2 separate regions of the Homo sapiens genome follow, and region 1 is linked to region 2. A link means that fine-mapping ties the variant in region 2 to the plasma level of a protein whose gene starts in the linked region. Region 2 holds a variant in brackets. A gene starts in the other region. All regions are shown on their forward strands.

Region 1 (15,585 bases), not on the chromosome of region 2:
TGTCCCGGGTGGCAGCATGAGCCATGCATCAGGCGTCAGAGGCAGAGGGTTGGCACCCCACGGAGGAGGGTTTGCTGAGCGACCTCGTGACACCCCCTAGTACACACACAGCCCGTGTCGGCCCTCCTGGTTGCAGAAGAACATAGCGGGCTGGCAGCTGGCAGACAGCAGCGGCTCTCACCTGCCTCCTCACCTGGGGAGGGGTTCCCAGGGTGGGCCTGAGAAAGTATGTGGCAGTTGGGGGAGGCTCAGGACCTACCAAAGCCCCATTCATTCCCCACCTGCTCCTATCCTCCTCTATTCCCTGCCCTCACCTCACACAGTGTCAGACGTGCAGGGAGGAGGTGAGGCTGGACCAGGAGGAGGGGTGGGGTGCGTGTGAACATGCGTGCCTACCCATGAGCAAGGTCGAGACGGGGTTCTACCAGCGTGTCCCTGAGTCTCTGTGACCGAGTGCATGTGACTGGGGTGCTTAAAAAAAAAAAAAGTGCTCTGCAGCCATAAAAAAGGATGAGTTCATGTCCTTTGCAGGGACATGGATGAAGCTAGAAGCCATCATTCTCAGCAAACTCACACAGGAACAGAAAACCAAACACCACTTGTTCTCACTCACAAGTGGGAGTTGAACAATGAGAACACATGGACACAGGGAGGGGAACATCACACACCGGGTCCTTTGTGGGGTGGGGGCCGAGGGGAGGGAGAGCATTAGCACAAATACCTAATGCATGTGGGGCTTAAAACCTAGATGATGGGTTGATGGGTGCCACAAACCACCATGGCACGTGTATACTAATGTAATAAACCTGCACATTCTGTACACACCCAGAACTTAAAGTAAAATTTTTTTTTAAAAAGTGCTTGTAAAAATTAAAGAGGAATAAAAGGGGGGTGAACAGCCAGTACGATAGTGCATGCCTGAAATTCCAGTGCTTTGGGAGGCCGAGGCAGGAGGATCGTTTGAGGCCAGTAGTTGGAGAGCAGTGTGGGCAACGTAGCAAGACCCCATCTCTACAAAAAATTTAAAAGTTAGCCGGGCATGGTGATTCACACCTGGAGTTCCAGCTGCTGTGGAGGCTGAGGTGGGAGGATCGCTTGAGCCCAGGAATTTGAGGCTGCAGTGAGCCATGATTGCACCACCGCACTTCAGCCTAGGTGACAGAGCAAGGGTCTACCTCAGAAAAAAAAAAAAAGGAGGAGCAAGCACGTGTTGATGGGTGGAAATCCAGCCAGAAATGCTGAGGCTGAAAAGATTGTCTCCGAGTTTCCTGGTAGCCAGGGGAAAAGGGGAAATTGGTACGTTGGTACGTTACAGTGCCTGGTTAGGCATGTCTTCTAAGGGGCATGCCTGTTTGTGACAGTGTCTCTGCCCTTCACACATGAGGGTGTGTGTGAGTAGCAGAGAGCAGAGACAGCACAGTGTCTGGGAAGTAAACAGATGATCTTCTGGGTACCCAGGGCAGCAGGGTGTCATGCTCGTTCATGACAGTGTCTCCAAGCAAGTGTGACGCGCGCAAAGAGAAAGAAAGCAGCGTTAAACTTTCTGAGTATAAATAGCTATGAGCTTCCTGGCAGCCAAGGAGAGAGGCGAAATAAAAGTCAGAGTCTCCTTAGTGCCTCCTCACCAGTGCCTGCCGGCTTGTGACAGTGGCTTTGACTGCATGCAGAGGTGTCTTAAGCGTGTGTGGGAGGGAGTCACATAGCTGCACAGGTGGGACGTATTTCAGAGCTGCCTGGAAGCCAGGGTGAGAGGGGAAATACGTTGACGTTGAGGCTGGTCAGATGTATCTTTCTTGCTGTGTGTGGCCGGGGCTCCTGCAGGGGCTCAGCCAGGACAGCGCCGGGCAGTCAGGCGTATGCGGCTGTCCTCCGCAGGGCTCCAGGGCCGGGCGTAGCCGGCGTGGGGCAGCAGCAGCTGGTCCTGTGTGCCGTCGGGGCTGACAAGACGCTGGACAGCCATCAGGTAGTCCCGGTGGGGTGCCAGCATCGGGCAGGGGCAGTGGCCTGGCGCCCACACGTACTCGCGTGCCCGCAGTGGCGAGCGGTTCTTGTAGACGAGCTGGATGCGCACCTCATAGCGGGTCTCCTGGGCCTGGTGGTGGTGGCCCAGCACTCGGGCCTGGAACACTGTTGAGGGGACGTGCTAAGCTGGCTGGCTGCTCAACTCTGCGCAAATCTCTACGCCCCCTCCCTTGCCAGAAGAGGGACTGAGGGTCAGGTGGGACCTCGGGATCTATAGGGACTAGAGTCAGGATCACGTCAGGGATCAATGAGGGATTAGGGTCAAGAGGCAAATTAGGATCAGAAGAAGGGGTCAAGGGTAAAGTCAGATTAGGGTCAGAGGTCAGGAGGAGGCCAGGTTAGTAGGGGCTAAGTCAGGGTAGAGGTCGGGGGTCTCACCAAAGTCACTGCCGCAATAGTGGAGTAGTCGGTGGGCGCGGCCGCGGGTGTCAGGGCAGGGTGGGCAGGGGTCTGTGGGATGGGCGGTGCTGTGAGGGGCACAGGCCTCAGTCCCCACTCATCCCCCACCCTGGCTGTCCCCACCTCACCTGGGGCCAGCGTTGGGGTCTGTGCAGGGGTGACAGCAGGGGCTGCGGGGGGCTGAGGCTCCACCCCCCGGGGCTGAGGCTGCCTCAGGGGCCAGCCCAGGGCCTGCACACGAGCCTGGAAGGGGCTGTAGCGCTCCCGAGGGAGCCAGAACTCAAACTCGATGCCAGGGTTGGGCTCCTGCAGGAGGACCTGGAGCAGGGGAGGGGACACAGGGAGCTTCACAGGAGGCTGGGGTTGCCTCCTGCCTCTGACCCTACGACCCCAGCCTCCCCACTTTGATCCTGTCTGCCCCCAGCCTCCCTCCTCTGATGCTCTGTCCCTAGCTGATCCCCTCTGACCCTGTCCCCACCCTCCCCCCTCTGATGCTCTGTCCCAGCCTCTCCCCTCTGACCCCAGACTCCCCCTTCTGGCCCCAGTCACCTCCACTCCTACCCTCTGTCCCCAGCCTCTCCCCTCTGTCCCCAGCCGACCCCCTCTGACCCTGTTGGAGGCCCAGTGGCACCTGTAGGAGCAGGTCATGGGAGGTGGGCCCGGCTGCTTGCAATGTCTCCTGGGGCCCTGTGTCTCGGGTGTAGACCACATGCGTGCCGGCCGCCTCGTAGGTCCCTGGTGGGCTGACCACCCAGTGCCCATTAAGCACGTAGCGCCCATCGCCCCCCATCAGTGCTGCAAGGGAACAGTCAGCCCTCAGGAACCTGTCGTCTCGTCTCCCAGACCCTGGGGTCCCCTCCTCAGGCCTCAGTCTCCCCATCTGTAAACAGGGACAACCGCCCCCGGGTGCCCAGCCGGGTGCCTCTCGCCTCACATCCTAGGATACCCAGGTGGTTGCGGCTCCTGTGTTCCACGCGGATGTGTCTGGCGCCCTCGGGGATCAGGGTCACGTTCCAGTACCCAGCGAAGGCACCTGGGTGGGAGGGTAGGAGGGTGTTGGGGTGCCAGTGGGGGTGTATTTGAGCGATGACTTGAGGATTTAATGAGCTACTGCGGGTAAGACAGCTAGCCAGGGTCCTGGGAACCGGAAAACCCTCCGTAAACGTTTGGAGTTACAATTACTATTGCTTCAGTGTGGCAGGGAAAGGGTTAAAACCCCATCTGTCCTGGGGAAGGGCGGGACAATCTGTCAGTAGCCAATCAGGATGAGGAGAAAGGGGGGCTGGGCCGCACACTGGCCAATCAGCACGGAAATTTGCTTCCGGGCCACGGCTCGTTAAAGGGCCCACTCTGACGTGTGTGCAGGGAGGGCGGGGCAGGTAGTCACCGGCGTCACGAAACACGCGCTGCACGAAAAGGCACGAGTCGTTGGCGCCTCCGCAGCGGCCACAGCGGTCCTCGAGGGCACCCGAGCCCAACAACCCATCACAGCCGGCGCTCTAAAGGGTGAAGGACAGGCGCGGCGTCACTGACGCTGGGAGGGGCAGGACCTGGGGAAAGGGCAGTGCCTGGGAGCAAGAGGACGAGGCCTGGAGGGAAGATGGGGGTGGAGCCTAGGGAGGAGCAGGACCTGGCGGGAGGAGGATGGGCTTGGCGCCCGGGAGTGGGTGCCTAAGGGGGGCTGGGGGCAGGGCCTGGAAGGGGAGGGGGAAGGCGGTGGAGCCTAGGGAGGGGGTGGAGGCTAATGGGAGGAGGGCGGAGGTGGAGCCTAGGATGGGTGGGGCCTGAGTGGGAGGTGGGCGGGGCTCGGGCGGGGCCTGACGAGTCCTTACAAGGCAGCGGCCAGCCACGCAGACCCCCTGGGCACCCGGGCTGCAGGCGGTGCCGTCCAGGACGCGGCCGAAGCTGTGGTAGAAGGCGTGCCCCTCAGCCAGGCAGTTGAGGTCGCACTGGTTGGGCGCTGAGGGCAGGAGGAGTCGGTGGGCCGGGGACCCCTGTTCGAGCTCCAGTCCCCCTCTACCAAGCTTCATCAGGCAACCATCACTTTGGGCAGATGAAGCCCAGAGATTTGGCCAAAGCCACACATCGAGGCTGAGGCAGAGCCAGGACTGGACCGTAGGTGCTCTGCGTCCAGCAACCTGGGACTCGCAGGCAAGTATCCTGGGGCTGCATTCATTCATTCATTCATTCATTCATTGTCTTTATATTAGGAGTCCTTACATATTATTCATTTTTAACACCATTACTCATTCTTCATTCCACTGAACACCTACTGTTTTCCAGACACTGTTCCAAGCTCTAGGATACAGAAGCAAGAATTCAATCAGTGTGCAGATGGATGGCCTTAAAAAAGGCCAGGTGTGGTGTCTCATGCCTGTAATCCCAGCACATTGGGAGGCTGAGGTGGGCAGATCTCCTGAGGCCAGGAGTTCAAGACCAGCCTGGGCAACATGGCGAGACCCCCCCGTCTCTACCAAAAATACAACAATAAAAATTTAGCCAGGCTTGGTGGTGGGAGCCTGTAATCCCAGCTACTCCGGAGGCTGAGGCAGGAGAATCGCTTGAACCAGGGAGGTGGAGGCTGTAGTGAGCCAAGATCATGCCACTGCACTCCAGCCTGGGTGACAGAGCGAGACTCCATCTCAAAAAAAAAAAAAAAAAAAAAAAAAGAAGATCTGAGCATCTGGCCCAGGCACCAGCAAGTACCCAATGAAGTGTTTGTCCAGTACTGACTGGACTGAGTCCCGCACAACTGAGCTGTGTCGCTGGTCCTCCCTGGGCCTCAGTTTCCCCTTCTGCCTGGAAGTGGGGCAAAATGAGCTGTCTGATCAAACACAAAGGCCGACAGCCCTGATCTCCACTCCTCCTTCTCCAGCTCCTTCTGGCTCCCATTTCCCTGAGCCTGGCTGGTGGACCCTGCCTGGAACGGATCCTGGGCTGGCCCTAGTGGGCCTCTGCGGGGGTGGGATCACAGCAGGTTTCCTCCAATTCTCAGATTGATGGAAGGAAGGAAGGGAGGGAGGGAGGGAGGGAGGGAGGAAGGAAGGGAAGGGAGAAAGGGAAGGAAGGGAAGGAAGAAAGGGAAGGAAGGAAGGAAATGAGGTTGATGGATGGCACTTTGTCCATTCTAGGCTTTTCTTATATCTGTGTCTGCCTTCCCCATGGCGTGTGAAGCTGCCTGTCTCCCTGAAATCTGGAGGCGCACTGACCCGGGCACGTAGTTATATAACTCGCTATTTTCAGCTCAATGCAGCAACATTTCCTGCTACTGGGATAAGTTTGAGAAGTGTTGGCCTCTGGATACAGCTCTAAGTCAATCCTTAGTTGGGTGTTCAGCCCTGTGCAGAATGAACCCTGCTTCCCTCTGCCCCTGTTTCACGCCTAACATATGCTGTTTCTGTTTCACTAACTCCTACATATCCTTCAAAGCCCTAGCACTAATACCCTCTTCTCTTTGCAACCCTCCAAGACCCTCTCCCTGAGACTAATGAGTTGTTCGCTCTGGACCAATTCTGACCACAGGAGACCAGACTACTCACCCCCATGGAAGGGCACCCACTGGTAGGTCTTCTGGGTGCCCAGGACAGGGCGGCCATTGTACAGGGCACACTGTAGGTCTCGGAAGGGCACAGCCCCTGGGGGGCAGTCCTAGGGACAGAGATAGGTGAGCCAGAGGCTGGGACAACCCCAAGGGGCAGGTGGTGGGCTTCAGGCAGTCTGGGGTGGGAGAGTGGTCTGGGAGGTGGGCAGGGCTTACTGGCAACTGGCAGAGGCGGTACTCATGGGAGTCTCCCCAGCACGGTTCTTCCCCAGGAAGCCTGAAGGGAGACAGAGTGTGGCGAGAACCCCCAGGGACCCCCTCCCAGGGCTGGCCTTCCACCCTCCGCCCCCGCCAACCCCACCCGCATTCCAGCGGGATCAGGGGGATTAAAGGGCACAGCATGTGTGGGCAGGCCGAGGGTGCGGCCAGGGGCCGGGCTGGGCCGGCGGGGGAGGAGGGGCAGGGACCCCCTCCGGGCCCCGCTCACCGGAGGCAGCGCCGGCTGCGCACAGAGACGCCACGCCCGCAGGAGCTGGAGCAGCGGGTCCAGGACACCCACGGGGTCCACTCGCCCGGACCCTACTTGGGGAGACAGAGGCACGGTCAGCCTTGTAGGGGGACGCTGGTGACCCCACACTGCTGACTGGGTCCCCATTCCCACTCGCCACCCCCTGGGCTCATGCCCCCCCTTACCTGAGCACTGACCCCCAAACCACAGTTCAGCAGGGCCCACAGGAAGAGCAGGAGGTTCTGGAAGAGGTGGGGCCTGGGGAACAGAGGGGCCGAGTCCATAGAGCCACCGCCAGAGACACAGGGTTGTGTCCCGGCTCTGCCCTGACTGGCTGTGTGATCTTGGAAAGTAACTAAACCTCTCTGAGCCCTACCTCTCGTCTCTGAAAAACGGGGTAATAGAGCCTCCCTTACAGGAAAGTTGAGGGGTCCTGTGGATCAGGTAAAGAAGACAGGAGACGTGGAGCCCGGTATGGAGAGGAAGAACTCAGAATGTCATCTGCAATTATTATTGTTGTTAGTTAGTTTGTTTTTGAGACGGAGTCTCGCTCTGTCGCCCAGGCTGGAGTGCAGGGGTGCGATCTCGGCTCACTGCAACCCTCCCCGGTTCAAGTAATTCTCCTGCCTCAGCATCCCGAGAAGCTAGGATTACAGGTGCCTGCCACCACGCCGGACTAATTTTTGCCGTTTTAGTGGAGACAGGGTTTCACCATCTTGGCCAGGTTGGTCTCAACCTTCTGACCTGAAGTGATCCACCTGCTTTGGCCTCCCAAAGTGCTAGGATTATAGGCATGAGCCACTGCACCCAGCCTACAATATTATTGATATGTGTATTGTGCTATAATGCAGACAGTAGGTGCTTAATCGATGCTTGATGATTGGAGGGATCATTCAAAAATAGTACACAGGTGCCTCCTAGGGCTGGGGCCCCCTCCCCGCCCTCCCCACCATCACTGCTTCTACCTTTCCGTGTGGCCTGAGGCCAGCCACTCCACTCTCCCAGGCCTCAGTTTCCCCATCTGTGCAGTGGGGGCCAAGTGGACTCAGTCCATGATTCTGTGACACCCTGCGGAAGGTGCGGCCGGCAGGGGCTGGATCAGGAGTTGGGTCCCTAGAAGAGGCCCTCAGCTGCACCCCGGCCCCAGGGCTCCCTCAGCTCCCAGACAGCAGGGAGTCCCCCGGATTGGGGATGGGACAGGGAGGGGGTGACCTGGCCCAGGTCCGTTCGGTGCCTCATGGCCTCATCGGCGGAGGGGGTGGGACTGAGCTCCGGGGCAGCCCGTGGAGGGAAGGGGCCACTGCTGAGGCTGGAGCAGGGAAGGGGAGGAGGCTGACTGCCTCTCTGGGCCTTAGTTTCTCCATCCTGTCAGGGCAGGGATGAAGTCACTTGCCATCCACACCCTCCTCATGACCCCAGCCTGCAGGGGGAAAGAGGGGGGAAGGGAAGCAGCCGCCAAGTGAGCCAGGGCGTCCTGCTGCCAGCAGAGCCTGAAGGCAGGTGGGTGAGCCCCGGCCCGGGCACCAGCTGGGGAAGAGGCTGGGTCCCACCTGGACCCTGTTTCCCTGGCTCCAGCATTTGGACTTCTGAGGCACCAAGGGTCTAGGGTCCTGGGTATCTCTAGGTACTGAGACAGCTGTGTGGTCTGCTGCATCCGTGCCCCTCTCTGAGCCTAGAGCCTGGGCTGGCCCAGGAAGCAGGAAGAAGTCTGCACCAGAAACTTAAAACAAGGGGAGGGGGGCCAGGTGCGGTGGCTCACGCCTGTAATCCCAGCACTTTGGGAGGCCAAGACAGGCGGATCACCTGAGGTCAGAAGTTTGGGACCAGCCTGACCAACATGGTAAAACCCCATCTGTACTAAAACACAAAAATTAGCCCGGTGTGGTGGTGCACACCTGTAATCCCAGCTACTTGGGAGGCTAAGGCAGGAGAATCGCTTGAACCCAGGAGGCGGAGGTTGCAGTGAGCCGAGATGGGGCCAATGCACTCCAGCCTGGGCGACATAGTGAGACTCAGTCTCAAAAACAACCAACCAACCAAAAAAAACAGGGGGAGGGGGCTTGACCTTCTGACCACCCCCACCGGACTCTAAGCCTGGTTTGAGGAGTGGGGGTCTAGGTGGTGAAAAGTGGGGGGCTACAAGGACCACCCTACCCCCTCCTCAATGGGCCCTGCCCAGAATCAAGGCTCTCCCCTCCCCGTGTGGGCTGCAGCCCGGACTGGCGGAGGGATCTCAAGGCAAGCCGCACCTCTGGGCCTCAGTTTCCCCCGGAGAAAGTGGGAGGATAGGCAGATGGACTTACCGGCTGCGCGGAGCCCAGGCAGCGCGTCCCGGCTCCCTGAGCGGCCCCAGGGCGAGCGGAAGCGGCGGGGCCCAAGGTGCTGGGCGGGGTGGGGAGCCTGGGACGGTCCCTCCCACCGCGGCCTCCGCAGGCGCGCCCAGGCCCGGGTCAGGAGGGGCGGCGGCCCCGGGCGCCCTCGCGCGGCGGGCGCGGATCTGCGGCAGGGGACTGCCCGGCGGACGCGAGCGCAGGGGTCCCGGAGCCGCAGGCTGGTGTCGGGCGCCCGGGTCCGGGTGACCTTGGCAGGCTCGGGCGGGGGCGCGGCGCGGGGACTGACCGCCCTCCTCTGCCCCGGGGCTGCTATTCCGGGCGCCGCGCTCAGGGCCCGGGAATGTGCGCGAACCGAGGTCACCCCGCCCTGGGTCTGGGAGTCCCGGGCGCTGCCCCTACCCCGCCGACGCCCGGATTGCGTCCCACCGGCGTCCCCATCCCCGGTCACAGCCCCCTCCCCTGGTCCTGCCCCTCACCCCTCTCGCGGGGGGTCGACCTGCTCGTGGATGGGGACCCTGGCGCGCCTGGGCTCCCATCCGGGGGTTCCCCGACCCAGGTCCCGGTCACCCCCAGCGCAGGGCCCCAGCGCACTGGGGAGAGGCTCGGCCCCGTGGGCCGCGCGCGGGGGGCGGAGAGACCCTCCCAGCTGGCGCATTCCCGGGCGCTGCTGTCACCAGGGGACGCGCCCCACCCCGCCTCCCGCCCTCCCTGCCGGGCCCCGGGGCTGCCAGCGGGGCTTCAGAGCCAGACCCGGGTCCAGGCGGTCCCTCTCCCTCACAGCCGCGGCCACACCCTCTCCGGCCTCAGTTTCCCCATCCCAGCAGTGGGCCCGGCAGGGATCTCCACCGCGAACCTTCCATCTGGAATCCGGCTCTGCGCGGACCGGCAACGCGAGGGGGCACCCCGGGACTCCCCCCACCCCACCCTTTCCCGCCGGGCGTCTGTGAGCCGCCCCGTGCCCACCCACGCAGGGATGAGACCAGGCCCTGGGTTCTGGGCTCCACCAGTTTCTGGTGTCGCCCCACGGCGCCCCCTGGCGGGCGGGCTGAGGGACTGGGGCACTAAAGGAGGGGGTGGAGGGACTGTCCTGCTCCCTGGGCTCCACCCAGGCTCGGTCTGAGCACCCCCTCCTCCAGGAAGCCCACCCTGCTGTCCCACAGCGCTGACCACAGGGAGAGAGGTTTGCTGGGGACATACAGGGTGTTGCTGGTCCAACTCAGTCTGCCCTCCAGCCTGTAGCATGTCAGCAGAGCCACCCATATGCCATTTATTGAGCACCTACTGTGTGCACAGCTGTGAACAACCCAGCCAGTCCCAGGCCAGCGGGTAAGGCAGCCCCCTGGAATGTATGACCCCCCACCTTCTGACCTGGACTATTGGAGAAAATAGCCCAGGCCCACCACTGATGGCCCCAGGTTGGGGGGTGGTGGTTGCGGGGATGTCAAGAAGGCCCTCACTGAAGGGGTCAAGAGAGAAGGGCAGGCCGGGCGCGGCGCCTCATGCCTGGAATCCCAGCACTGTGGGAGGCCGAGGCAGGCGGATCACCTGAGGTCAGGAGTTTGAAGCCAGCTTGGACAACATGGTGAAACCCAGTATCTACTAAAAATATAAAACTTAGCCAGGCATGGCGGTGAGTGCCTGTAATCCCAGCTACTCGGAAGACTGAGGCACGAGAATCGCTTAAACCCGGGAGGCAGAGGTGGCAGTGAGCCGAGATCACGCCACTGCACTCCAGCCTGGGAGACAGGCGAGACTCCGTCTCAAAAAAAAAAAAAAAAAAAAAAAAGGAAAGAAAGAAAGAAAGAAGTCAGCTCAGGACATGTGTCAATGTGTCATTAGGACAATTGTATCCTCCTCAGATGTGCCCCATTCCCAGATGTCCAGTCCACAGAGCTCCACTGGGAGTGCAGACAGCAGGCCCTGTGCCCCGCAGGGAAGGTATACAGAAAGCACAGCGCCCACAGGGAGCACACACAGCAGGCATTATGCTCTGCAGGAAGGGTATACAGCAGGTGCTGCATCTTGTAGAAATGCATAGAGTAGACTCTGCCCTGCAAAGGAGTGTATACAGTAGATATGGCACCTTCAGAGGAGTGCATACAGCAGTCACTGCATCCTGTAGAGAGTATATACAGCAGGTGCTGCATCCTGCAAGGAAGGTATACAGCAGGTGCTGCATCCTGCAAGGAAGGTATACATAAGGCGCTGTCTCCTGCAGGGAGCGCATACAGTAGGCACTGAGTTCTATGGAAAGTGTACCCCGCAGCCCCTGTTCCCTCCTGGGAGTGCATACCGCAGCCACTGCACCCTGCGTGGGGGCTCTAGAGCTGGCAAGATTGGCAGAGGTGGTGGTGAAGATGTGGAGGGCTGCCCCCCACCCCCAGTTCTTGTCCCCTACCGTCTCCCACCTCTGTCCTCTGGATGTCCCTAGGAGGAGGCTGGGAGCTCAGCCTAAGACACCCGGTGTAGGTGGAGGGGGTGGCTGCTGAGGCTCAGAGGCTCCTGGGGTCCCAGTTGGGCGGGGTCCCAGCTTACTACATTCCCCTGCCCTTGCCTGGACCCTGACCCAGGAATCAGCCGAGTCCCCCTACTCTGAATTTCAGCCTGGACCCCCTCCTTGAGGCAGCGTCAGGGCTAGAGGGGAGACTGAGACGCGGGTCCCGGCGGATGTGGATCAATTAGGTTCCATTTCCTTCATGGTTGTATGGCCTTGAGGCTTAAGGAATGCCGCGATCTGCTGTGTGACTGGGCTACAGTGAACAGTATGGTACCCCACACTTCAAACTGTGTTCACAGGGTAGATTTCATGGTAAGGGTTCTTACCATAAAAGAACAAAAACAGTGGGACACAAGGGACCTCGGGAAGTGACAGGTAGGCCTGTCATCTTGAGTGTGGTGACTGCATATGTGCAAACTCATCAAATTGCAGACACTGGGCTGGGCACGGTGGCTCACGCCTGTAATCCCAGCACTTTGGGGATCCAAGGCCAGTGGATCACCTGAGGTCAGGAGTTCGAGAGCAGCCTGACCAGCAAGGTGAAACCCCGTCTCTACTAAAAATGCAAAACCTAGGACACGGTGGTCCCAGGATACCTCAACCTCCTGCGTGGACTGGGTGGGGCCTCCCCATCCCTGCCCCACAGACCCCTGGACCCCCCGGTCCCTGGGGCTGTCCGTCTGTTCCTGGGCACCAGCAGGGGCCACGCAGAGTTGGGACCCTCCCCGGCTGGAGTCACCCCATGGGACTCAGGGCCCTGGACCCTCCTTGGCCGCTGCTCGCCCGGTCCTCATTCTGTGCCGGTTTCTTGTGCACGCTCGGAATCTGTTCCCTGCAGGCACCCAGTGCCCCGGGCACCGTCCAGAATTCCTGGAAGAGACCTCTTGCTTTCTTACCCCACTGCCCAGGCTCCAGGCCTGTGACATGGCCTCCCCAGGGTGCCCCTTCCCCTCCACCTTCACGTGCTGAAAACCACCTGTTCTGTCACTTTCAGGCGACGTGGATCAGGTGGACTGGCCCACCTCCTCCATTGTGTATGACGTAACCCATGCTTGGCCAAACAGATAATTCCATCTCCTAGAGACGGGGATTGGCTGGGGGATGACCATGTGACCCAAGTGGGCCAATGAGAGCCTGCCCTGGGACTTGAACTGGGCCATTAGAGGAAAAGGTGGTTTCCCGTGGCTGGGGTGGGCTCCAGGGATGGCGTGAGTTGAGGTAGGCTGGACTTTCTTGACTGCTCGAAGAGATGCACTGTCTCAAGCAGATGCTGACAGACGGCAGCAAATGGAAGGGGCCAGATTTCTTTTTTTTCTTTTTATCTTTCTGTCCTTTTCTTTCTTTTTTTACTTTTTTTTGAGACAGGGTCTTGCTCTGTCGCTCAGGCTGGGGTGCAGTGGTGCAATCACAGCTCACTGCAGCCTTGACCTCCTGGGCTCAAGCGATCCTCCCACCTCAGCCTCCCATGTAGCTGGGACTACAGATGCATGCCATCACATCTGGCTAATTTTTTTGATCTTTAGTAGTGACAGGATCTTGCTATGTTGTCCCGACCCAGGCTGGTCTCAAACTCCTGGGCTCAAGAGATGCTCCTACCTCAGCCTTCCAAGTAGCTGGGACTACAGACATGCATCACCATGCCTGGCTAATTTTTATATTTTTTGTAGAGTTGGGGGTCTCCCCCTGTTGCCCAGGCTGGTCTCGAACTCCTGAACTCAAGTGATTCTCTTGCCTCAGCCTCCCACACTGCTGAGATTGCAGGCATGTGCCACCCACCGTGCCCAGCCCAAAAGTCTAGATTTCTGAGAAGGTTGTTTGAGTTCCTGGATTGAGCCTCATCTGAAGGCATTCATCCATTTTTTTTCACTTTAGCAATTTTTAGTTTCTTACTTTTTTTTTTTTTTTTTGCCAGGGTCTCGCTCTGTCATCCAGGCTGTACTGCAGTGGTGCGATCTTGGCTAACTGCAACCTCTGCTTCCCAGGCTCAGGCAATCCTCTGGGATCAGCCTCCCAAGTAGCTCGGACTACAGGTGAGTGCCATTATACCCAGCTAATTTTTGTATTTTTAGTAGAGGTGGAGTTTTGCCACGTTGCCCAGGCTGGTCTCAAACTCCTGAGTTCAAGTGATCCTCCCACCTTGGCCTCCCAAAATGCTGGGATTACAGGTATGAGCCACTGTTCCCAACCTTATTTTAGAATTTTTAAAAAATTTTTATTATTATAGAGACAAGGTTTCAGGAACGAAACTCCGTCTCAAAAAAAAAAAAGGTGATAACAATTACTATTTCATGATTATTGACTAAATTCCAAATGTTATTTTATTTGGATTTGGATTTCACCAGGCTTGTTTTTTTGTTTTTTTTTTTTTTTTCAGATGGAGTCTTGCTCTGTCTCCCAGGCTAGAGTGCAGTGGCGTGATCTCGGCTCACTGCAAGCTCTGCCTCCTGGGTTCACGCCATTCTCCTGACTCAGCCTCCCAAGTAGCTGGGATTACAGGTGTGTGCCACCACGCCTGGCTAAATTTTTGTATTTTCAGTAGAGACAGGGTTTCACTGTGTTAGCCAGGATGGTCTCGATCTCCTGACATCATGATCCACCCACCTCGGCCTCCCAAAGTGCTGGGATTACAGGCGCGAGCCACTGCACCCAGCCTTTTTTTTTTTTTTTTAAACAAATGTCCTTTTTCTGTTCCTGGATTCCATAAGACATTGAACTATTTGTCTCATAATTAGTAAAAAGACCCATGCAGATTAAAAATGGATTATTTCTGTGGTAATCGGGTGGGTTCTGATGCCCATGCAGCACCTTGAACACGGCTGGAGTTGATGAGTATCCCTGATGGGAAGTCGATGCTGCGTCCATGGAGAGAAGGGGCACGGGGTTGAGTGTCCACCCAGCACCTAATGGAGATACAGACCCTCTCCCTGCCACTGGCGCTCCCTGTCAGGTGGGACAGACACCAGCAAGCTAGCAAGGAAACCATCATTCTGGGTTGTGGTGGAACTGGGGAGAAGCAGGCATGGATCACGTCTAGGGCATCTTGGGGCAGGGGCGGCCTCCTGGGCACAGGTGGCCCTTTCCTGCCTGGGCCTAAAAGCTAAGAAGAGGATGCCAGGCAAAGTCTGGGAGGGTGGCAGAGGGAACAGCACATGCAAAGGCCCTGTGGCAGGGTGAGCTTGGTGTGCGTCTGAGGACAAATGGGAAGGCCAGAAGGTTGATGTCTTGGCCTTGTGTCCTCATCTTGGGTGGTCAACTCTGGGGAATGTTGTATTCAGTTCCTCAGAGGGTGCCTGATGAGTGTGGGACTCAGGGTGCCCCGGGGGTACCCAGCTCCCACCCTGCTCCCTGAACCAACTCTCTGCACTAAAGCCTTGCTTCAGGCTCTGCCTTTGGGGGAACCCACACAGATGGGCCAGGAGGGTTGAGTAACCTGCCCCAGCTGCCAGTGCTAAAGCCACCCACCTGGACAATGTCAGTGGAGGAAGTGAAGAGAGTGGGTGAGAGGCCCCAACACTGAACCCCAGGCTCCCAGGAGAAGGAGGAGGTGGCTTAAAGGAGAACTGGAAAAATGCATCCAGAAAGATGGGAAGGGGCCAGGCGCGGTGGCTCACACCTGTAATCCCAGCACTTTGGGAGGCTGAGGTGGGTGGATTACCTGAGGTTGAGAGGTCGAGACCAGCCTGACCAACATGGAGAAATCCGGTCTCTACTAAAAACACAAAATTAGCTGGATGTGGTGGTGCATGACTGTAATCCCAGCTACTCAGAAGGCTGAGGCAGGAAAATCATTTGAACCCGGGAAGCACAGGTTGTGCTGAGCCGAGATTGCGCCATTGCACTCCAGCCTGGGCAACAAGAGCAAAACTCCATCTGAAAAAAAAAAAAAAAAAAGATGGGAAAACATCAGGAGCAGGGGTGTCCCAGAGGACAAGAGAGGACGGTGCTTTTATTATTATTATTTTTTTTTTTAATTTTTTTTTTGAGAGAGAGTCTCGCTCTGTCTCCCAGGCTGGAGTGCAGTGGCACAATCTCGGCTCACTGCAAGCTCCGCCTCCCGGGTTCACGCCATTCTCCTGCCTCAGCCTCCCGAGTAGCTGGGACTACAGCCGCCCGCCACCACACCCGGCTAATTTTTTGTGTTTTTAGTAGAGACGGGGTTTCACAGTGTTAGCCAGGATGGTCTCGATCTCCTTACCTCGTGCTCCACCCGCCGTGGCCTCCCAAAGTGCTGGGATTACAAACCTGAGCCACCACGCCCGGCCACTTTTATTATTAATTATTATTA
Region 2 (8,395 bases):
GCTTCCATTCCGGCTTCCAGGCCTGGTGCCAGGGGAGAGGGCTGCAGCACCCTCATCCCTACAGAGCAAAGCTCTGTAGGGCCACTGGCTCTCTGCTGGTTGGGCTACACTAAGGTTTCCTAACCTCAGCACTGCTGACAGTTTGGAGCTGGTAAGTTTTGGTTGCTGAGGGCTGTCCTGTGCTTTGCAGGATGTTTAGCAGCATCCAGGGCATCTACCCACTAGATGCCAGGGGCACCCTCCCCAAAGTCATGACAATAAAGAATGGCTCCAGACCCACTGCCAAATGTCCCCTGGTGGCAAAATCTCTCCTGGAGCTGTGAACCACTGGACTACACTCAGCTTTGGGGACTTTGGTGGTCTTTTACCCTAGATCAATTGGTTTTATATTTGTCCATTCATTTAGCAGCCATTTTTTGCCTCCTCCTTCCCTGTAATGTGTCAGGACTAGGCTAGGTTCTGGGGATCCTGGGGTCACCTGAGCCCCCAGAGTACTCCCGGGCAGATGGCCCAGTGTCCCAGGAGCTCCAGATGTGTTTTGTTGCAACTGCTGTCTGTGCACAGAGGAGTGTCAAGGAAGAGGGCCAGGAAATGACTTTGGCTGCACCTTAATAGCTAAGGATGGCAAAGGATGTTCTTGGTAGAGGAAGCAGCAAGTGCCAAAGGTGGGCATTTGAGAAAGGACACCAGGATAGGAACCGGCCTGTGCACTGGCTGGGAGAGGTGACGCGATTGCGGAGGGCATCTGTGTCTTGTGTGGCCTTGAGCCCAGGGAAGGCGGTGGGAGCCGCTAGAGGTGTCCCCACTGGTGTGCTCAGTCCAGCCATCCCCTGATCAGCCTGTCAGGCCTGCTTCTCCATGTTGGCCTCTCCTGGATCTTTCCAGCAGCAAACATGCATAGAACTCCCCTCTTCACAACCACCTTCCATTGAGCCTCTATGTCCCTGCAGACCCTATGCTGACATAGTGTCCCCTTTACAGCTGTCCATGTTGGTTGCCTCTGCCTGTTCATCTCCCTACTCACTTCTCAGGGCCTGCAGTGGGGCCGCATGTCAGCCCCTGTTCCAGGACACTGTCCTGGCCAAGGTCACTGCCTCTCTCCCTAACTCCACTGGACACCTTGCAGTCTTTACGTGACCTGTAGTGTCGTTCTGCTTGCCGTATGCTCCTTCTTGAAATTCTCCCTTCCCTCTGCTCCAGGAACTACTGTCTTCTGCTGTGCCTCAGGGCCTGTCCTTGGTTTCTCCCCGTGTGACTTGGACCACCTCATAGACATGCACTTCGCTGCGTCAGTGCGATGCTGACACACTATCTGGGTCTGGACTCTTGAGCTCCAGACTTCAAATCTGAGGCCTCCTGCTATCTCACAGGCACCCCAAATTTGAAATAGCAGAAAACAACCTCGCCATTCACCCCAGCCTTGGATCTCCCAAGGTTGGAGGGGCACCATCATCACCCAGTAACCCAACCTAGAAACCTTGGTCATTCTTGATTTCTCCCTGTCCTCCACCTGTTTGCTCTCAAGGGGTGGGAACGGTTGGCTCTGGAATGGCCTTTGATTACCTCTTCCCTCTGTCTCCCAGACCTCCAGAGGCCCTTGATGGCTCTCCCAGTGTCCTCTCTCCTCCAGGAACGGGCTACCTGTGCAGGCTGATGGCCACCGTGTCCACCAGTCCCCAGATGGCACGCTGCTCATTTACAACTTGCGGGCCAGGGATGAGGGCTCCTACACGTGCAGTGCCTACCAGGGGAGCCAGGCAGTCAGCCGCAGCACCGAGGTGAAGGTGGTCTCACCAGGTAGGAAAGGTCTATATCCGGGGATGGGAAGGACATTCCCCAGTAGATTTACTGGTTCTCAAGGGCTGGCTCTGCAGTCTGAGGGACTCTGGTTTGAATCCTGGCTCACCCTGCCAGTTGCTGGTAGTGTGACTTGGGGCAAGGGGCTTACCTTCCTGAGCCTCATTTTCCTCCCGTCTACAGTGGGGCTGCTCCACCACCTGAGAGGGCTGTAGTGGAGATGAAGGAAATGATGCTCTGCTGGGCCCCTGGAGATAGCTTAATAGACATTAATGCATGCAGGACATTCAGACTCACCGATTTTGAGACATATGACTGACTGGAATTTCATTATAAAACTTAAAACTTAAGGCAGACCACTAAAATCTGTCCACTCTAATCCACTCTAAACCACTAAAATCTGGCCACTTTATGGCCGTTTGACCATATAACCCAGAAAGGAAAGGGCAGGGATTATCATCACCATTTTACAAATGAGACAGGTATGCAGAGAGCGTAAGTGGTGTTTCCACCGGTCACACCGCAAATGTGGCCTACCTGGGACTAGAGCCCATGTCTTTTGACTCCCCATGTTTTTTTTTTTTTACCCCCACGAAATTACTATACTTGTACCTAAGTGGAATCTTACTTGCATCATTTGATATTTGATATTGTAGCCTTACCTCCTCTA[GC/G]TACTACTCTATCATACTTCAACAAATCCAAATTGCCTGTAAGATGCATTATTTTTGTACCAAGAAAAAAATGCTGCCAGTGAAACGACACAATTCTGATACCATCAATTAGGATGCAAACCAACTTGAGAGATGTGAAAATAAGTGCATATCAGAACTGATGAAACAGATTGTGGTTCAGAGTTCACACTTACAAGAGATATGTTCAAATAAGCAGGAGGGAAAGGGGGACAGGGCTTTGCTCGTCCCCCAGCCTGTGCTTCCTTGTGTCCTTGGTTCTTGTTCACGGAGGGACTGAAGACAGAGTGGTACCTCGGGCCAAGCTGCCAATTCTCACAGGCCTGATACAGACCTTGGGGGAGTATGCCAGGCTCGGAGGTGCCAGGGCCCTTCCTGCCTGGTCTTCTGGGCATTCCTGACAATCAGGGCTGCAGCGCCATGCCAGGAGCACGGTTACACTCAGAGGGGCAGGCCTGGCTGCTTCCTGGCTGCCAGGCTGAGGGTGGAGACTGGCCAGTACTAGAAGTTGAAGGTCTGGCTGAAATGTTGCTTTGTGAGTGGGACTGACTTGTCGGCTTCCTGTCTATGATCTCTTTAGAGATCGCCTCCCCAGGGCCCAGCTCAGTGCTTGGCATCACTAGGTGCTCATGTTGTGGCTGGAAATGTTGTCCAGCGGCTTTTTTCTCACCTGTTGCTCGGCGAGCGGGAGGGAGGGTTACAGGGTTCCTTCCTGCCGCTTCGCCAGCCCGCCGCCTTGACCTCTGTCCGGGGCCTCGCTCGGCCCACCGTCTCGCTCCGCCCACTTGGCCGGGCAGGCTGCGCTCCGCTGACCCGGATCCCGCACTCGTGGCGGCCCCGCGCTCAGCGCACGGCACAGGCGGCTTCCGCACTGGGTGCTAACGTATAGACAAGGGGAACATGGTGGCGCCCGAAAACTCGGAGATGCCAGCAACCGCGGAGCCCCAAGGGGGTGTTACAGGGACAAATGTTCCCGCCGCTCGCAGCTCGGTGAACGGGAGCGTTAAAACTCGTTCTTCCCTCCATTCCCTCCTGCTCACCCAGCTACAAAAGCCGCGACACTCAGATACATGGTGACTAAGTGCCTGCCTGCACAATGATGGAGTTACATTGGCGAAAGCACCACACTCCAGGGACTACTTTTCACCTGTATCATGTCCAGAAAATTGACCTTGTCTACATAATAACCAAATCAAGGCTGTGTGACAAAGCAAAATGCAGATTCACAGTGAGAGAACTGTCAAGAGGACCTAGACATTATGTTTGCGATTAGCTCCAGATGGGATTACATGGAAAACCAAACTACAATGAGAAACTTGCCTGATACCTGGTCACCACGCTGAAATGGCCTGAGATGTGTGTCCCAGATGGGACAGACATGGCCTCAGTCTGGCCACTCTCCTCCGGTCCTCTGCTGGCTGCTCTCACCTGTTCATTTTTTGTTGGGTCATACGGTGTGCGGCTGCCTGACCCTGCCCTACTCATGGTTGGGTGGCACATTGAATTTCAGTGTTAGCACCAGGGTAGGAGGCCTTGGGGTGGTCAGGCTGAGGTAAAAGGGACATAGCTCTACTGGGAGGACTTCTCAACATCGCTGTGAAGTAGGTTGCTGTTGCTGTTATTAGTCCCATTTCACAGATGAAGAAATGTGCATAAAGGGCTTAAGCAACTTGCCCAGAGTTACCCAGCTGGCAAGTGGCAGAGCCCGGATTGAGCCCGGGCAGTATGGGTCCAGAGCTGGTGTGCTTAATCACTATGCTGAGTTCCCACTATGATGGGTCTTGGGCTGTACCAGCTCAGAGTTGATACCAAAGTTACAGATTTTTAGAAACAATATGCATTAATGGCTTTGTTATCTATATAAATTTAGGTAGGTAATAGTCTGGTTATACCAATATACCAAACGTTTGTAAGGTTGTTCGCTGCTAGGTACAGTCTTTTAGTGGTATTTTGTGAGTAAACAAGGGGAGAGAGAAAGATAAGCTTTCTCTGGCTGCTTGAGGTCTGACTTCAGGGAAGGTACCACTCTGGTCTAAGTCAGCTGAGTTTTAAGAACCCCTTCCAGAAGAGAGATGAAGCAGTAGAATGAAATTTTTTTTTTTTTTTTAAGACAGAATCTTGCTCTGTCACCCAGGCTGGAGTGCAGTGGTGTGGTCTCAGCTCACTGTAACCTCTGCCTCCTGGGTTCAAGCGATTCTTCTGCCTCAGCTTCCCGAGTAGCTGGGACTACAGGGGCACGCCACCATGCCTGGCTAATTTTTGCATTTTTAGTAGAGATGGGGTTTCACCATATTGGCCAGGCTGGTCTCAAACTCCTGACCTCGTGATCCGCCCGCCTTGGCCTCCCAAAGTGCTGGGATTACAGGCATGAGCCACCACACCCAGCTGAATGAAACTTAATAGGGAGTTATGAGATACAGACGTTCCTAGTAAATTCAGAGGGAGAGAAAACAAGGGCTTTGCTTTGTTCTCAGTGTAGTTAGTATTAGAGCCACCGTTAACAGGACTGTTTTCCTATTACCTTGTCTAATATGCATTGCTTCCTCTGGGGAAAGTGAAAAACTGGAAGGATGAGGACCCAGGTGACTAAGATAAGCTGGTGATATTGAAGGGACAAAACTTTGATGGTTGGAGGAACCCAGCAGAGAAAGGGAAAAGATAAGAGCTCTTGCTAACTCAAAATTTTACTTGGGGCTGATCCTACCTGCTCTCCCAATCCAGAGGCAAGAACAGTTGTCATTTAGTAATTCAGGTCTCAAACATAAGGAGTTAACTTCAAGAGATGTTTAATTATCCAGTCAATAAATATTTGGGAGTCTAGGAAGAGCTATTCAGTGGGCTGAGGCCACAAATAATAATGGGAGGACCACTGCATGTTGAAGTGAGGCCAAGAAACAGGTAGAAATCATCATCCCTCATAGAGTTTGTACGTATGGTTAAAAGGTTACAGGGTAAGTGCACTTCGTTTTCAATCTGGCAGTTATAATGCTGTGTTCCTTTGAAGGAAATGAAATGGCAGGTGAGAATTTTCAGCATACACAGAGCTTCCTCACCACCTTCTCTCTCCCCTGTCGTTCTGCAGCACCCACCGCCCAGCCCAGGGACCCTGGCAGGGACTGCGTCGACCAGCCAGAGCTGGCCAACTGTGATTTGATCCTGCAGGCCCAGCTTTGTGGCAATGAGTATTACTCCAGCTTCTGCTGTGCCAGCTGTTCACGTTTCCAGCCTCACGCTCAGCCCATCTGGCAGTAGGGATGAAGGCTAGTTCCAGCCCCAGTCCAAAATAGTTCATAGGGCTAGGGAGAAAGGAAGATGGACTCTTGGCTTCCTCTCTCTGGCTGGCAAAGGGAGTTATCTTCTGGAATACATTAGCTCTTTCAAAAACCCACCCAGTGTTTAGCCTCAACGGCAGCCAGTTACCAGCTTCTCTCTGTAGCCTTCAGCAGTGTTTGCATCTCTGACATAACCACAGGCTGCTGTTTTCAAGAAGAGCAATCTGTTTGGATAAGAAAAACCTTTACTTTACAGCTTCCCTTTATAATTTGTTACACAGGAATAGTTAAATGCATTTGTTTGTTTGTTTTTTGAGACAGAGTTTCACTCTTGTTGCCCAGGCTGGAGGGCAATGGCGCGATCTCAGCTCACTGCAACCTCCGTCTCCTGGGTTCTTGATTCTCCTGTGTCAGCCTTCTGAGTAGCTAGGATTACAGATGCCTATCACCATGCCTGGGTAATTTTTGTATTTTTAGTTGAGATGGGGTTTCACCATGTTGGCCAGGCTGGTCTCGAACTTCTGACCTCAGATGATCTGCCCGCCTCAGCCTCCCAAAGTGCTGGGATTACAGGCATGAGCCACCACGCCCAGCCATCAATGCATTTTTTTTATTTTTTTTTTGAGACAGAGTTTCGCACTTCTTGCCCAGGCTGGAGTACAATGGTGCGATCTTGGCTCACTGCAACCTCCACCTCCTGGGTTCAAGCGCTTCTCCAGCCTCAGCCTCCTGAGTAGCTGGGATTACAGGTATGTGCCACCATGCCTGGCTAATTTTGTATTTTTAGTAGAGACGGGGTTTCTCCATGTTGGTCAGACTGGTCTTGAACTCCCGACCTCAGGTAATCCGCCCGCCTCGGCCTCCCAAAATGCTGGGATTAGAGGTGTGAGCCACTGTGCCCAGCCCATCAATGTGTTTTAAAGCTAGCTGTCAGGGTTCCACTTAATTTAAAGCTGGGCAGGGAGATGTGTAATGATTTCAAAGTTAACACCTGTTTGTTTTCTAAAGGGCATGCCAAGTCCTGCTGTATCAGGGAAGTATTCTGTGCTAAAATCAGCGATGGTTCATTGCTCTAGTCTCTCTCACCCTTCTAGGCAGTGCATCAGTCAGCTCTAAATCTGGTGCAGAGGGTTAACAGCATAACCCTTGTTGGCAAAATGGAATAGATGTTAAGACCTCAAATAGGGATTTGGGATGAAACAGCTGCAGTTAGCACTGTTATCTGAGCATGAAAGAACTGGAAACGCTCCTTACGTCGAGATGTTGGACCTTGAAGCCCTCCTGAGGCCAACATGCAAATCTGGCTGTGACGGTTCATCTGACACCTGTGTAAAGCTGACCAGCCTGCTCTGTACAGTGACAATGAGGAGCCCCTCTCTTCCTTAAGTAGGAATCTGTGAAGCAAAATGTTTGCTGCCAAAGACAAATCAGACTGTCAGTCATTAAAAACAGCATTAGCAGGATGAGGATAGCAATGGGGAAGGGTTGTGGGCAATGCAGTAACAGGGAAATGGCTTCAGAAATGGTTTGAGTTGGAAGACAACATTCTTCATCTCTCAGGACTTCTAATTCCTTGATGCTAAAAGAAGAGGCATGGATTCTATGAGCTTCCAAGTCCCTTTCCACTTTAACCTTCTACAAATCTTTCAGAGGACTGCCTAGTAGCAAAGGTTATTCCTGGACACAGGAAAGACGGGCATTACAGGGACCAAAGCTCTGAAAGGTGACTTTTATTACCAACACACTGGCTGGAAAAGGGACAAACCACATCACGGGTGAGTGATACTTCTCAGTCTTCTCTACTCATTCAACAAAGGAAATGTGGGCTGGGGCAGAGGTCTTTTTTCATTTAATACTGGAAAAATATTGAAGAGCATCCATGTTCACTTATGGCTGGTTTTGCTATAGAAATTGGAAAATAAAGGCCACTTTTTTGAAATCCCCAGTTTAATTAAACCAGATTTTGGCCTATTGGTATAAACACATCAGAAGGTAAGTTTGAGGTTAGCTAGCAGCTAACTAGTTCTAATAGAACCAGTCACAGAATAGTGGGCTAAGATTAGAGGTAAAACTCATTCTAGGCCAGTGGTTCTCAACTTTACCATATTGCGAGCTTAAAAAAAAAAAACACAACCTGGGGGGTCCCCCTGCCCCACTAAAATTTTGATTTAATTGGTCTGGAATATAGGCCAGGCGTTAGGATTTTAAAAAGATATCCTCAGGTGATTCTATTGCATAGCCCAGGTTGAGAAGCACTGCCCCACCCCGCTGAGATTCTGCATTTCTAACCAGCTCCTAGGTGAAGTCCATGCTGCTGTTACAGACCACACTTTGAGCAGCAAGAATCTGACTTTAGAGATACACTCAGGATTAAAGTATGAATGAAAATATGAATCTTAAGGGTATTTTTCTAGTCACTAAACTAGGGATTTACAGCAGCAGTAGAATGGAGAGTAAGACCAAAAGAACGAAAAATAAATTCATTTACTAATAAAGGAAAGGGGAAAGAACAGCCCTTCATGGGCAAAAGCTTCTACCATGAACATTTATTTTTGTTAAAGCAGATTATAAATTTTCATCAGTACAAATATATATAACTTACATTTGATTGTAAGGCCAACGTTCAAAAGTAAAAAT

Direction of the effects. Positions count from the first base shown, and alleles are read on the strand shown. Strength reflects both the effect of a copy and how common the allele is.
For the plasma level of the protein whose gene starts at base 8,830 in region 1, allele G in region 2 goes with a lower level than allele GC (moderate association).

What was found. A credible set is the group of variants that fine-mapping cannot tell apart. PIP is the posterior inclusion probability: the model's chance that the variant is causal. Protein levels are from antibody-based Olink assays in UK Biobank. Linkage for the fine-mapping came from a reference panel and not from the study's own genotypes, which makes the PIPs less certain.
Region 1: it holds the start of ADAMTSL5, and the variant in region 2 is the best candidate, but not a certain one, in a credible set for the plasma level of the ADAMTSL5 protein (UK Biobank, PIP 0.59).

What each region holds. Positions count from the first base shown.
Region 1 is chr19:1,504,190-1,519,774 of GRCh38, forward strand. It overlaps ADAMTSL5 (ADAMTS like 5), which reads right to left and starts at 8,830. Exons shown (of 12, transcript NM_213604.3): 1 at 8,774-8,830; 2 at 6,656-6,971; 3 at 6,450-6,541; 4 at 6,179-6,239; 5 at 5,961-6,069; 6 at 4,254-4,381; 7 at 3,809-3,920; 8 at 3,368-3,454; 9 at 3,053-3,216; 10 at 2,550-2,739; 11 at 2,401-2,472; 12 at 833-2,127. The coding sequence starts at 6,754. The coding sequence ends at 1,826. It overlaps LOC124904609 (a long non-coding RNA gene), which reads left to right and starts at 3,803. Exons shown (of 2, transcript XR_007067084.1): 1 at 3,803-3,927; 2 at 4,475-4,925. LOC107985337 (a long non-coding RNA gene) reads left to right here and starts at 13,213. Exons shown (of 3, transcript XR_001753835.2): 1 at 13,213-13,330; 2 at 14,103-14,247. RefSeq lists an enhancer at 3,555-4,404 and silencers at 3,729-3,928, 8,655-9,024, 9,864-9,943.
Region 2 is chr14:73,266,927-73,275,321 of GRCh38, forward strand. PAPLN (papilin, proteoglycan like sulfated glycoprotein) reads left to right here. Exons shown (of 27, transcript NM_001365906.3): 26 at 1,631-1,797; 27 at 5,569-7,697. The coding sequence ends at 5,738. It overlaps NUMB (NUMB endocytic adaptor protein), which reads right to left. Exons shown (of 13, transcript NM_001005743.2): 13 at 8,290-8,395. Among named protein-coding and RNA genes, the nearest start is that of PAPLN-AS1, 25 kb to the left of the region's middle. The variant GC/G (reference allele first, on the strand shown) is at 2,468.